Linked DNA regions of Homo sapiens: region 2 is linked to region 1. Evidence: fine-mapped expression QTL. A gene starts in region 1. The other region holds a variant in brackets. All regions are shown on one strand. Distances are between the middles of the regions.

Region 1 (5,220 bases):
CCGCCCCCTTCTCAGGCCTGGCACTCCTCTGTTCACATGCCACAAGCCCCTGAGGTTTCCCCAGTGCTTTGTATTAAAACTAGCCACGTAGGCTGGGCACAGTGGCTCACACCTGTAATCCCAGCACTTTGGGAGGCCGAGGCAGGCGGTTCACGAGTCAGGAGTTCGAGACCAGCCTGACCAACATGGTGAAACCCCATCTCTACTAAAAATACAAAAATTAGTAGGGCATGGCGGTGGGTGCCTGTAGTCCCAGCTACTCGGGAGGCTGAGGCAGGAGAATTGCTTGAACCTGGGAGGCGGAGGTTGCAGTGAGCCGAGATCGCGCCACTGCACTCCAGCCTGGGTGACAGAGCGAGACTCCATCTAAAAAAAAAAACTAGCCAAATGGGTGGTCCCTGCTTCCCTCTTCCCCGGGCACTCCCTGGGACAGACACCAGCTCTGCCTCTTTGTCCTCAGTGTCCCAGGGCAGATGTCAGTGAGTGCTGGGTGAACTAATTACCGAGCAGACCCTCTCACCAAGCCTGAGACGCTGTGAGCCGTCCCCCAGAAGGAGCAGGGAGGCTCTTAGCCCCCACCCAGCAAGGAACACCCAGTTCTGCATCCCACTCCAGCAGAGACCCGCTGGTTTCCAAAAGTTAGGGGGATCCAGGGCCCACGATCACCTCAGCCCCCTACAGAAGGGAAGCCTGGCAGTCCTGCAGCCAGTCTCAACATCCCAGCCTGCATCTGGCATCCCTGGATTCCAGGGCAGGACTCAGGCCTGCACCTGACCCACCAGCTCCCCGCACCCTGCCCTGTGTGGCCACAAGCACCAGAACCTCGAGCCACATATGGGCATTTTTTGGTGGGACCCTCAAACCACAAGGCCACCATGGCTTGGGTCCCCAAGCCTCCTCCTCAGTGGTCCCCAGCCCCCACTTCACCCTGCAAGCCAGTGCCACACAGTCCTTCCAGAGCACAGATCTCTCCAGACCCTGCTTCAAATCCTGCCCTTGGAGCACAGTCCCATCCCTCATGCAGCCTCCAAGGCCCTGCAGGGCTCCCGCCACACCTGCAGCCTCACCTCACTCCTCTCTGCCCCTCAGGGCTCCAACACTGCCTGCAACTCCTCCCTTCTCCAGGCTTCGCTCCTGCCATGCCCTCCTCCTGCCTCCCACTACCCTCTCTACCCAACCAACGCTCTTCCTTATTGAGGAGTCAGCTCTGGCATTGCCCATGTACACCCAGCAAACACTGCCAGAGCACCCACGATGTGCCAAGCACTGTGCCAGGTGCTAGGGTCCCCATCCCAGTCATCTGACAGTACCCCAGGGGAGGCAAATGTTAGATTCAGAATTCCACAGTTAGATGTGACAGTTAGATATGAAGCAGAGGAGGAATCCCAGAGGGCTTCCCTGAGGAGGTGATGCTTAAGCTGGGATTTTAAGGATGTAGCAAAGGATTTGGCCAGGTCCAGGGGGAAGGGAAAAGCTTTTCAGACAGGGGGAAGAGCCAGTGAGAGGACCCTGAGGCTCAGAAGAGCACAGGGGGGAAGCCAAGTGGTGGGAAGTGAGGCTGGGTGGAACACACAGGCCCTGATGGGTTGGATTAGGACTTTGCTCTGCACCTCCAGGACCATAGCAAATCATGACAGTCTTAAGCAGGGGGAACATGAGCCCACTGGAGGCAGCAAGTGGAGGCAGGAGGCCTGGGAAGAGGCTGCTCGGAGGCACAGTAAGGAGAATGAGTCCTGCCCTGTGTGTTGGGATCGGCTGCCCCGCTGCCCACGCCCACAGTTCCTGATCACGGCTCCCATCCTCTGTATGGTCACGGCCCATCAGGTGGCTCCAGAGTCTGACTGATCTGCATTCCCAGCCCAGCACAGGTCTGGGGCCCACACTCAAGGACTTTCTGAGCCAGCCAGCCACTGGACTGACCCCACAGCCACCAGCAACTTCCAGAACCTTCACATCAGCAGAACACCAGGTCCTCATCCATTTGAGGTCTCCCCAGACCCACCCTCTGAGCTCGCTCACCACCACCAAGGCCCAGTGGCCTCACCGCAGACCTCAGGTCTCCCAGCCGGAGCAAGGTGTGAGCAGCAGGACTCAATCCAGCCCCCCACCCTTCAGCCCCTGCAGGGCCCCGATCAGCCGAGGCTGCGGAGGATATGGGTTGCACACCATCTTGATGCACCAGTTCCGGGGGCTGGTGGTCTGTCGCAGGCAGAAGAAGGCAATAGGCGCCAGGTCTGGGTGTGGGACATGAGGATCAGCTCCATCCAGAGGCTCCTCCAGGCCTGGCGGGGAGGATGGGGGGCTCCGGGGTCCGGGCTGCTCCGTGGTGACTCCTGGCTCAGCGGCTGGGGCTGCTGCAGATGAGGAGGGCGGGGAGGCGCTCTCAGCCATGTCCACACTGAGCTGGGAGCCCTGGGGAAGACAGAGAGGGTGGCACGTGGTGGGGACAGGCCTGGTACATGCTCCCCAACCTGCCTCTCCACCAATAAGTGGACGGATGCAGCTCTGACAGCCCCACCTGAGCCCCACAGGCCCCTCACCCTCACTCTTGCATGAGGATTACGAAACAGCTGAGGGCCCAGCTGCACCCAACTTGGAATCTGCTTCCAAGCTGGGTGATCATGGGGCAAGTCTGCTCACCCTGGCTGAGCCTCAGTTTTGGCAAACGAAGATAGTGGGGAGAATAAAGCCTTCTTAGAATATAATTGTGATATTAACTCTTTTTTTTTTGTCTATTGGCAATTTTCTGTATTTGAAATCTTTCATTATTTAAGAGAAAAAATGTTTAAGTAATTATAGACAGAAAAGAAAGACGGAAGGGAGGGAGAGAGGGAGAGAGGGAGGGAGGGAGGGAAGAAAGGAAGGAAGGAAGGAAGGAAGGAAGGAAGGAAGGAAGGGATCTTAACTTTTTTACAAGACTAGAGCTATGTATTTATTGCACCATCAAAGGTAAAGAAAACTTGCAAGAAAAAAGAGGTGATTGTAAAGACAGACATTATTGCCAGGACAATGCAGGTTACAAAGGCAATGTTGGGGTGCTGCAGAATCAGAGACTGGGGGAACGCTGGCAAGCCAGGAGGGAATCACAGTTGGCTTCCCTGAGGAAGTAACCCCTGAGCTGAGACCTACAGCTGAGCCCTTGACCCAGGGACCTCCCAGCCACTGCCTTACAAGGCTGAGAACCCAGGAATCTTAGAGTCTAACCTCCTTGCCTTACAGATGAAGAAACCGAGGCCCAGAGAAGGGACAGGACAGACATGTAGCAGAGTAACAGCAGAAATAGAATTCCAGTCAAAGGCCAGGCACGTGACTCACACCTGTAATCCCAGCACTTTGGGAGGCCAAGGTGGGTGGATCACCTGAGGTCAGGAGTTTGAGGCCAACCTGGCCAACATAGTGAGACCTCATCTGTACTAAAAATACAAAAATTAGCTGGGTGTGGTGGCACACGCTGTAATCTCAGCTACTCGGGAAGCTGAGGCATGAGAATCACTTGAACCCGGGAGGTGGAGGTTGCAGTGAGCCAAGATCACACCACTGCATTCCAGCCTGGGCAACAGAGCAAGACTCTGTCACCAAAAAAAAAAAAAAAAAAGAATTCCGGTCAGAGCCCGCTTCCTGGGTCTGTGGCTCAGGCAGCTGCACAGGGCCCCGTGCTCAGAAGGGCCCTGAACTTGCTTTAGAATTCTTCTGTCACCAACATGAAATTCTTAATTGCTTATCAAGAGGTCCCACATTTTCATTTTGTTCTAGGTGATGCAAATCATCTTGCTGGCTCCGACTCCAACTCAAAGCACTTCTACTCCCTGGCCTTGTCTGATGCTCACAACAACCTCAGGAGGACTATTATGCCCATTTGGCAGGTGAAGAAACTGAGGCCAAGAGAACAAAGCGGGTTGTCAAGGCTATGCACCCAGCCAAGTGAAGCACTAGGTGGTGTTGAGAGGCCAGAATCCCAGCACCAGACCCCCAGGCGGGCTTCATGACAACTGATGGTGCCCTCGCTGGCCGAGAGCCTCCGCAACCAGTCAATGGCAAGATGGGACGGACAGCCACTCCCAGGGCCTGCCCCTCACCACCTCACCCCAAAGGGTACTAGTCCCTAAAACTTTGTCCACTGGGGTCCCTGGGATCCTAGAACCCCTACAGGGCCAGTCTGAGCCGTGGGATTGAGAGATGGGGTCCACGTCCCTGGTGCCCACCCAGCTGCTGCTGGGCTGTCGACCAAGCCACCCGGAGCTGATGCATTTGGACATTTCTCTGGCTCCCGGGGGCAACGGGCAGGGGTTGGCACCTCCTGCCACTTCCCCTGGCTGGTCAGGGAGGCGGAGTTTTCTCCTGAGCTCAGGGCTTTGCTCTTGATTCCAGAAAAACAGCCACGGGCCTTACATAAGCTCCCAGGCACCTTGGCCTGCCACGTGTCAACCTCCTGGGCTGAAACGCACCCTCCCTAGGGTGGTTCCAGCTCTGCCCACCACCGTGCCAGCCTCGGAGCCCACCACTCCCTCCCCTGGCCATTTGCTCTGGCCAGATTGGACCTCCTCAGGTCCTAGGCCCTGCTCCCGCTCTTCCCTCTCACTGGGGCACCTTCTCCTTCCGCCCAGGCCCTGTTCTCCCAGGCCCTACTGATTCATTCATTTGCCCAATGAGCACCTACTATGTGTGGGCACTGTGTGGGCTTCGGGCTATGCTGGGGCACGAGCCAGACTCAGCACCAGCCCCCATTCAGCCCACACTTCCGCAGAGGAGAGAGACACACCGATCAATTAATTTCTCTCTTTCTGCTTTTCCACAACTCTTATCACCATCAAACACGGTGCATAATTTATGTCTTTATATCTCCATGATTTGGTGTCTGTCTCCCCAGCCTAAGAGAAGCCTGTAAGGGAGGTGTATCCCCTCACTGCTGTATCCCCAGCACCTGGAATGGTGCCTGGAGCATACTAGGTGCTCAATCGATATTTGTTGACTCAGTGAATAAAAAGTGCTGGGAAGTAAATAAACAAGGGGAAAGGTGGGAGTGGAGACAATCATCTTGCCCTCTCTAAAGGAAGAGATGTTTAAGTGAAAACCAAGACGCGGGAGGCCGCAGCCCTGACTGATCTGCTGGAAGAGCACAGGAGGAAGAGCACGTGCGAAGGCCAGGAGAATGGGGCCCGCTCGGTGCATTTAAGGAACACAAGCGAGGCCGAGCCTCGGGCAGGGAGGCGGATGAAACCA
Region 2 (5,220 bases), 91 kb before region 1:
GCCCGCCCTGGGAAGCGCCCCAGACGGGATGCTTCCCCTGCGCCCCACACCTCTAGCAGGTGCCTCCATCACACTCAGTGTTCCCTGCACCCATCTGTCTGGTGGGTTTGTGACTCCTGTGAATGGGGACGGGGCTGACCCCCTCTGGGTCGCGGGAGCCCAGCCCCGGGGCTGGCACCCAGAGGGGTGGGCCATGGGGCTACGAGTGAAATGAAGCCGATGGCAGGCGAGTGACAAGCTGAGGCAGGGGCTGACCCAGGGCCAGGGGCCCGAGCTGGGGCTAGCAGGGGTCCCGGGTGAAACCGGGAGCTACCTTCAATGTCATCTCGCCCACGAAGATGGCCGTGAAGATGTAGTTGGACACGGTGAGAAAGATGCGTTCCTGAAAGCATCGGGAGATACCATAGGCTCAGGGGCTCCCAGAGCTGCCCGGCCACTGGCCAGCCGCTGCTTTGGCCAAGGTTCGTAGAGGAGAGGCTGCCACCTCTCAGTTCACGGAGGCTTTCCCCGCCCCAAAGGCAAACTTCCTGTCCTGCCTCCCCACCTCGGTGAGGTCTCCCTGCCCTGCTCAGCCCTGGCGAGCTGTCCCTTGGCCTGGCGCCTGCCCTGCCCAAAGGCTACAGCCACTCACGGTGCTGCCGGCCTCGATCTGAGGCCGCTCCAGGGCGATGGTGATGCAGTTGAGAAAGATGAAGGCCAGGACGACGTAGTCGAAGAGTTTGTGGGCAATAATGGTCTGACACAGGACCCGGAACCTGGGCAGGGTGGGCGGGGGCTGCCTGAGCGTCAGCTGCCTCCCACCCTGGCCAGAAGGAAGGCAGAGGGCCCAGGCAGCAGTGCAGACCACGCTGGCCTCGAGGAAGCAACCCCTATCCTCTCCTCTGGCCAGGTGCCGACTCTACACCTGCTCAGGGTGCCCACCTGGCGCTGCCTCCTCTGACCATACACCCACACCACGAGGTCACCCACCTTTCCCTGGCACTCGAGGCTTACCCAGCCCAGATCCCTGAGCCTGTCAGGAGGATACCACGCTGCCTAGTACCCTCTGCTTCTGCCCCAGGCCTTCCCTCAGGCTGCTCCCTGCCCCTGCACCAGGCTCCTCCTCTTCACAGCCCCTGATGTGCCTACTGGAATGCCACCTGCCTCCAGAGCCCAGCACAAAGGCCTCCTCCTCCAGGAAGCCTTCTGATGTCCCCTCAGATGCAAGCCATACAGGCTACTTGAGAATGGTTCAACCTGGTGCCCAGCACAGGGATGGCCTAGACTAGAGGAGAGCCCAGGAGAGCCTGGCCACCAACATCCGTCTTGCCTAAAGTCCTCGCCTAGCCCCAGAGGGAACCCTGATCCCCAGGGATCTTGGAAGCCAAGGCTGAGACTCTTCCCTGACCTCCTCCAGCCAATCCCACTCCCCAAATCCATCTTCACCCAGCAGCCCTCAGGAGGCTGCACTCTCCCCTGGAGACCCCCACCTCTGGGCCGGGAGGGTCCGCTGTGGTCTGGGAGAGCGCCACCAATGGCCTTGCCTGGCTTGGCAGAGATCCGTCCCTCCCACGTTACCCCTACTCTAACCCTCACCCCAGGCCTGGCCCTGCCCACCTGTTCTCGGGAGAGAAGAGGTAGACAGACCAGTCTTCGCGGACCTCGCACCAGTCGGGCTTATAGACGTCGATCATCTTGCGGACGCGGAAGCACAGGGTCTAGCAAGAGGAGGACGGAGCGCCGGGGGTCAGCGATGCGCAGGGTTGCCGGTCTCCGCCCATGCGGCCATCGCGCCAACTGGGGTCGCAGGGTCACCTCCGAACTCTCTGCCCCCCGGGGGCAGCCAGGGAGGGCTTCTCTCCCAGGAGCCGGCCCAGCTCAGGTGTGGGCAGTTCTGGCCCCACCCCTCCTGCCTCACACCTGAAGCCCTAGCCGCTCCGGCCACGCCCCGGCCACGCCCCCCGTGGGCCCGCCCGCTCGGGCCCCGCCTCCTGGGGCCGCACCCACTTCTGTCCTATCCCACCGCACCAGGTCCCCTTCGGCCCCGCCCCCACTCACGTAGTCGATTTCCTCCTCATCCTCCCCGCGATCCCCGCGGTCGCCCA[T/A]CTTGGTGAAGACGTCTTTGGCGATGCTGGGCATCCTGCCATTGCAGTCCTCATGCCCGGGGGCCGGGCCTGCCGCCCTCCAGGCGGCCCGGGGGTGGGCGCCCACCGCGGGCACCAGCTCGGCCAGGTCCACCGAGTCCCTGTTGTCGAGGGACAGCGTCCGGCGGTGGTGGCGGTGGCGGTGCGCCAGATGGGGCCCGTGATGAATGTGGTGGGCGTGTGGGGTGTGCAGGGGTGCGGCCCGCGGCGGCCCCTCGTCCGCGGCAACCTCGCAGACCCGGGCGCCGCCGCCGCGCTCCGCAGAGAGCAGGGACTCATGCTCCGCCGACGGCGGCTTGTGCTTGAGGCTGTTCCAGCTGGAGCGACGGCTGGCCCAGGCCGCGCTGCGGCCCCATGGCCCGTAGTAGGAGCTCCGGGAGCTGGACTGGAAGGAGTTCCCGTTCGGGTCAGCGCCCCACAGGCACACCCACGGCTGGGGCACCAGGTGCCCAAAGGCAGCCTGCACCCCCGCTGTGGCTCTAAGACCACCCACCTGGCCAGCGGGTGATGGAATGGGCTTGACCCTAGAGCTCCTCTCCCTGTCCCACCTCACTCCATCCACATCCACAGGGACATGGGGGCACATCCACCCGGAGGTTACATCCCCTCCTGCCACCTCACTTCCCTTGAGGAAGGTACAGCAAGTTAGGGCCATCTTCCCATTTTGCAGGTAAGGAAACTGAGGCTCAGAGAAGGGCAGTAATTTGCTCCTGGTCACACAGCTTGGAAGTGGCAGAAGGTGGATTCAAGCTGCAGTCTGCCTGACTCCAAAGCCCAGCTCTTTTTACCCTACACATTGTTGCTGAGATGAAAATCCAATTCTCTGCACCAGACCCCACTGGCACTAGGCCTTCATTCGTTCCTTATTGCCAGGTCCCACTCTGGCACTGGGCACCCAGGAATGCAACAGACATGGCCCCTGCCTGACTTTGGCTGGGCACCAGAGTCTGAGGCTAGACTGGCAGGTACCTCTCTTCAGGGCCCCTCCACACACACCCCAGCAGGAAGCGCCCGTCCAGAGCTCCCCACAAGGACTCACCAGGGAGCGCTGGTCATAGCTCATCCTCCCTAGAGACATGACACTGCTCTTTCGGGAGCCCAGGGCCACCAGCATGGGGTCCGGCTGCAGTGAGAGTCGGGGGGCAGGTCCCGCAGCCCCAGCAGGACCTAGGTGCCCACCCAGTGGGAGACTGGGGTCCAGGTGCCCATTGGGGGTCATGGGGATTGGGCAGAGCTTGGGATCTGGAGGAGTGAGATGGAGACAGAGGGAGGGACAGATGGCAGACAGGACAGAACAACAGCAAGGGAGCCACGAGACAGACAAACAAGGAAGGAGCAGAAATGGAGAGCTTTTCTAAGGAGGCTTCCTCTACCAGGAAGTCTTCCTGGTTGCACCCCATCACAGTGCCTCCCCTTCGCCCCACCTGCAGGGCTCTTAGCTTTATTTAGGTATGTGTGGACCCCTTGCCTTCTGTGCTCAGAACCAGCCTGACACCTCACTCCCATGCCCACTATGGGAAACAAGGCAGGGACTGTCCGCCCCAGTTACCGAGAAAGACACTGGGCTAGGGTTGGAGGATGCTTGTTCCAAGATGCCCAGTAGTGCCAGGCAGGACCAGAACCTACACCTTGACCTAAGGCCCCAAGGCTCTAACCAAGGGGCCCTGGTATGTGGAGGGATGTGGTGGGCTGCGGCTACCCCTGTGCCTAGAATCCCAGGGGTCCATGGATGTCACTGACCTCTTTTTGAGATTTCACATTTTTTCCAATTATGAACGTAAACAACAAACCATAGATAAGTAGCAGTCCCTGAGCCTGGGCTTGAGGTGGAGTCAGACGCTGTACCCTCTGCCCACCTGGATCTGTGGAGAAGGCTCTGGGCTCTCTAGGTGACAAGCGAGGGCCTGTTTACCTCCGCTGCTGTCCAGGCCTTCCTGGAGCTTATCAAACTCTTCTATGTTGGATGAGCTCTGGTCCTCGTCCGAGTAGGAGCGATTGGCGTCACCCTGGGAGAGCATCCGTCACGTTAGAATGCAGGTCAGTCCAGCTCCTCCCTTCCCAGCTCCCTCTAGAATTTTTCTATGGGTGTTTCCACCGCCATTTTGCAAATGGGAAAACTGAGGTTTGGAAAAGGGAAATGAGATGCTAACAAGAACCTAGGTCACAACCCTACATCTGCCTGACTGCAAGTATCCCCAGAGCCTCAGAGAACGGAGGGAGCAGGGCCCAGAGTCCCTAATCTTGGGGGATTTCGAATCTCAGAGATGGAGAAGCCTAGTCCTACATCCCTGGGGGGGAGCAGGGATGGCAGACGCAGTCTCCATTTGCATGCTTCCTATGATGAAGAGCTCACCACCTCATCAGCAACCCCCTCCTTTAGGGATAGGTTGCCTGCTAGAAGTTTGAATTGCAGCCCTCCCCCATCCAGGCCACCTCTCCCTCGCCCAGTCTTTCGCAGACCCTGTGGGGGTGCTTCCTCTGCCAAGACCACAGTCACCTCCGCCTGGAAGCCCTCCACCAGGATGGCCACCAGCAGGTTGAAGAGCACATAGTTGCCGAAGGTCATGAGGGCGACAAAGTAGAGGGAGGCCCAGGGAGAAGTGGAGGCCATGCCATTGTAGAGAACGACGTTCCAGTCCTCCTGGGTGAGGATCTGTTGGGGAGACACAGTTAGCCCTGGGGTACCCCTAGTCCAGGGCTAGGCTCTACAAGGAGGCATGGGAGTTGTCAGCCCCGCCCCTCCCAGGCCTACTGTCCCATCGCTTCCCCAGCAAACATGAACACGCAGCGGCCACTCACCTGGAACACAGTGACGATGGCCCACAGCAGGGAGTCGAAGTTCTTCCTGTCGGGCACCGTGTCTCCAGTGTCCGTGCGGAGGCTGAACTTGCAGCCAAAAATATGCATCCCAAGGATGCTGGGGAAAGGATGGAAGAGGCTCATCGGACTCACATGCACCAAACTGCCTACTCACCTTGTTTCATTCTCAGTCAACTCAGTAAAATGCAGGGCAGGGGGAGGCGGGGCAGCGTTGGTCCCATTTTACAGAGATGAACACTGAGGCTTAGGGGTTCATGCTTGCTGAAAGCCACAGGGG

What was found.
Region 2: its variant is fine-mapped to the expression of CACNA1I in whole blood (TOPMed, PIP 0.98).

The regions. Positions count from the first base shown.
Region 1 is chr22:39,567,924-39,573,143 of GRCh38, reverse strand. It overlaps CACNA1I (calcium voltage-gated channel subunit alpha1 I), which reads right to left and starts at 2,391. Exons shown (of 37, transcript NM_021096.4): 1 at 2,156-2,391. The coding sequence starts at 2,391.
Region 2 is chr22:39,659,253-39,664,472 of GRCh38, reverse strand. CACNA1I (calcium voltage-gated channel subunit alpha1 I) reads right to left here. Exons shown (of 37, transcript NM_021096.4): 13 at 4,923-5,040; 14 at 4,621-4,776; 15 at 4,036-4,129; 16 at 3,163-3,365; 17 at 2,038-2,508; 18 at 1,597-1,697; 19 at 632-755; 20 at 314-382. Among named protein-coding and RNA genes, the nearest start is that of CACNA1I, 91 kb to the right of the region's middle. RefSeq lists an enhancer at 156-685 and a silencer at 1,896-2,015. The variant T/A (reference allele first, on the strand shown) is at 2,085.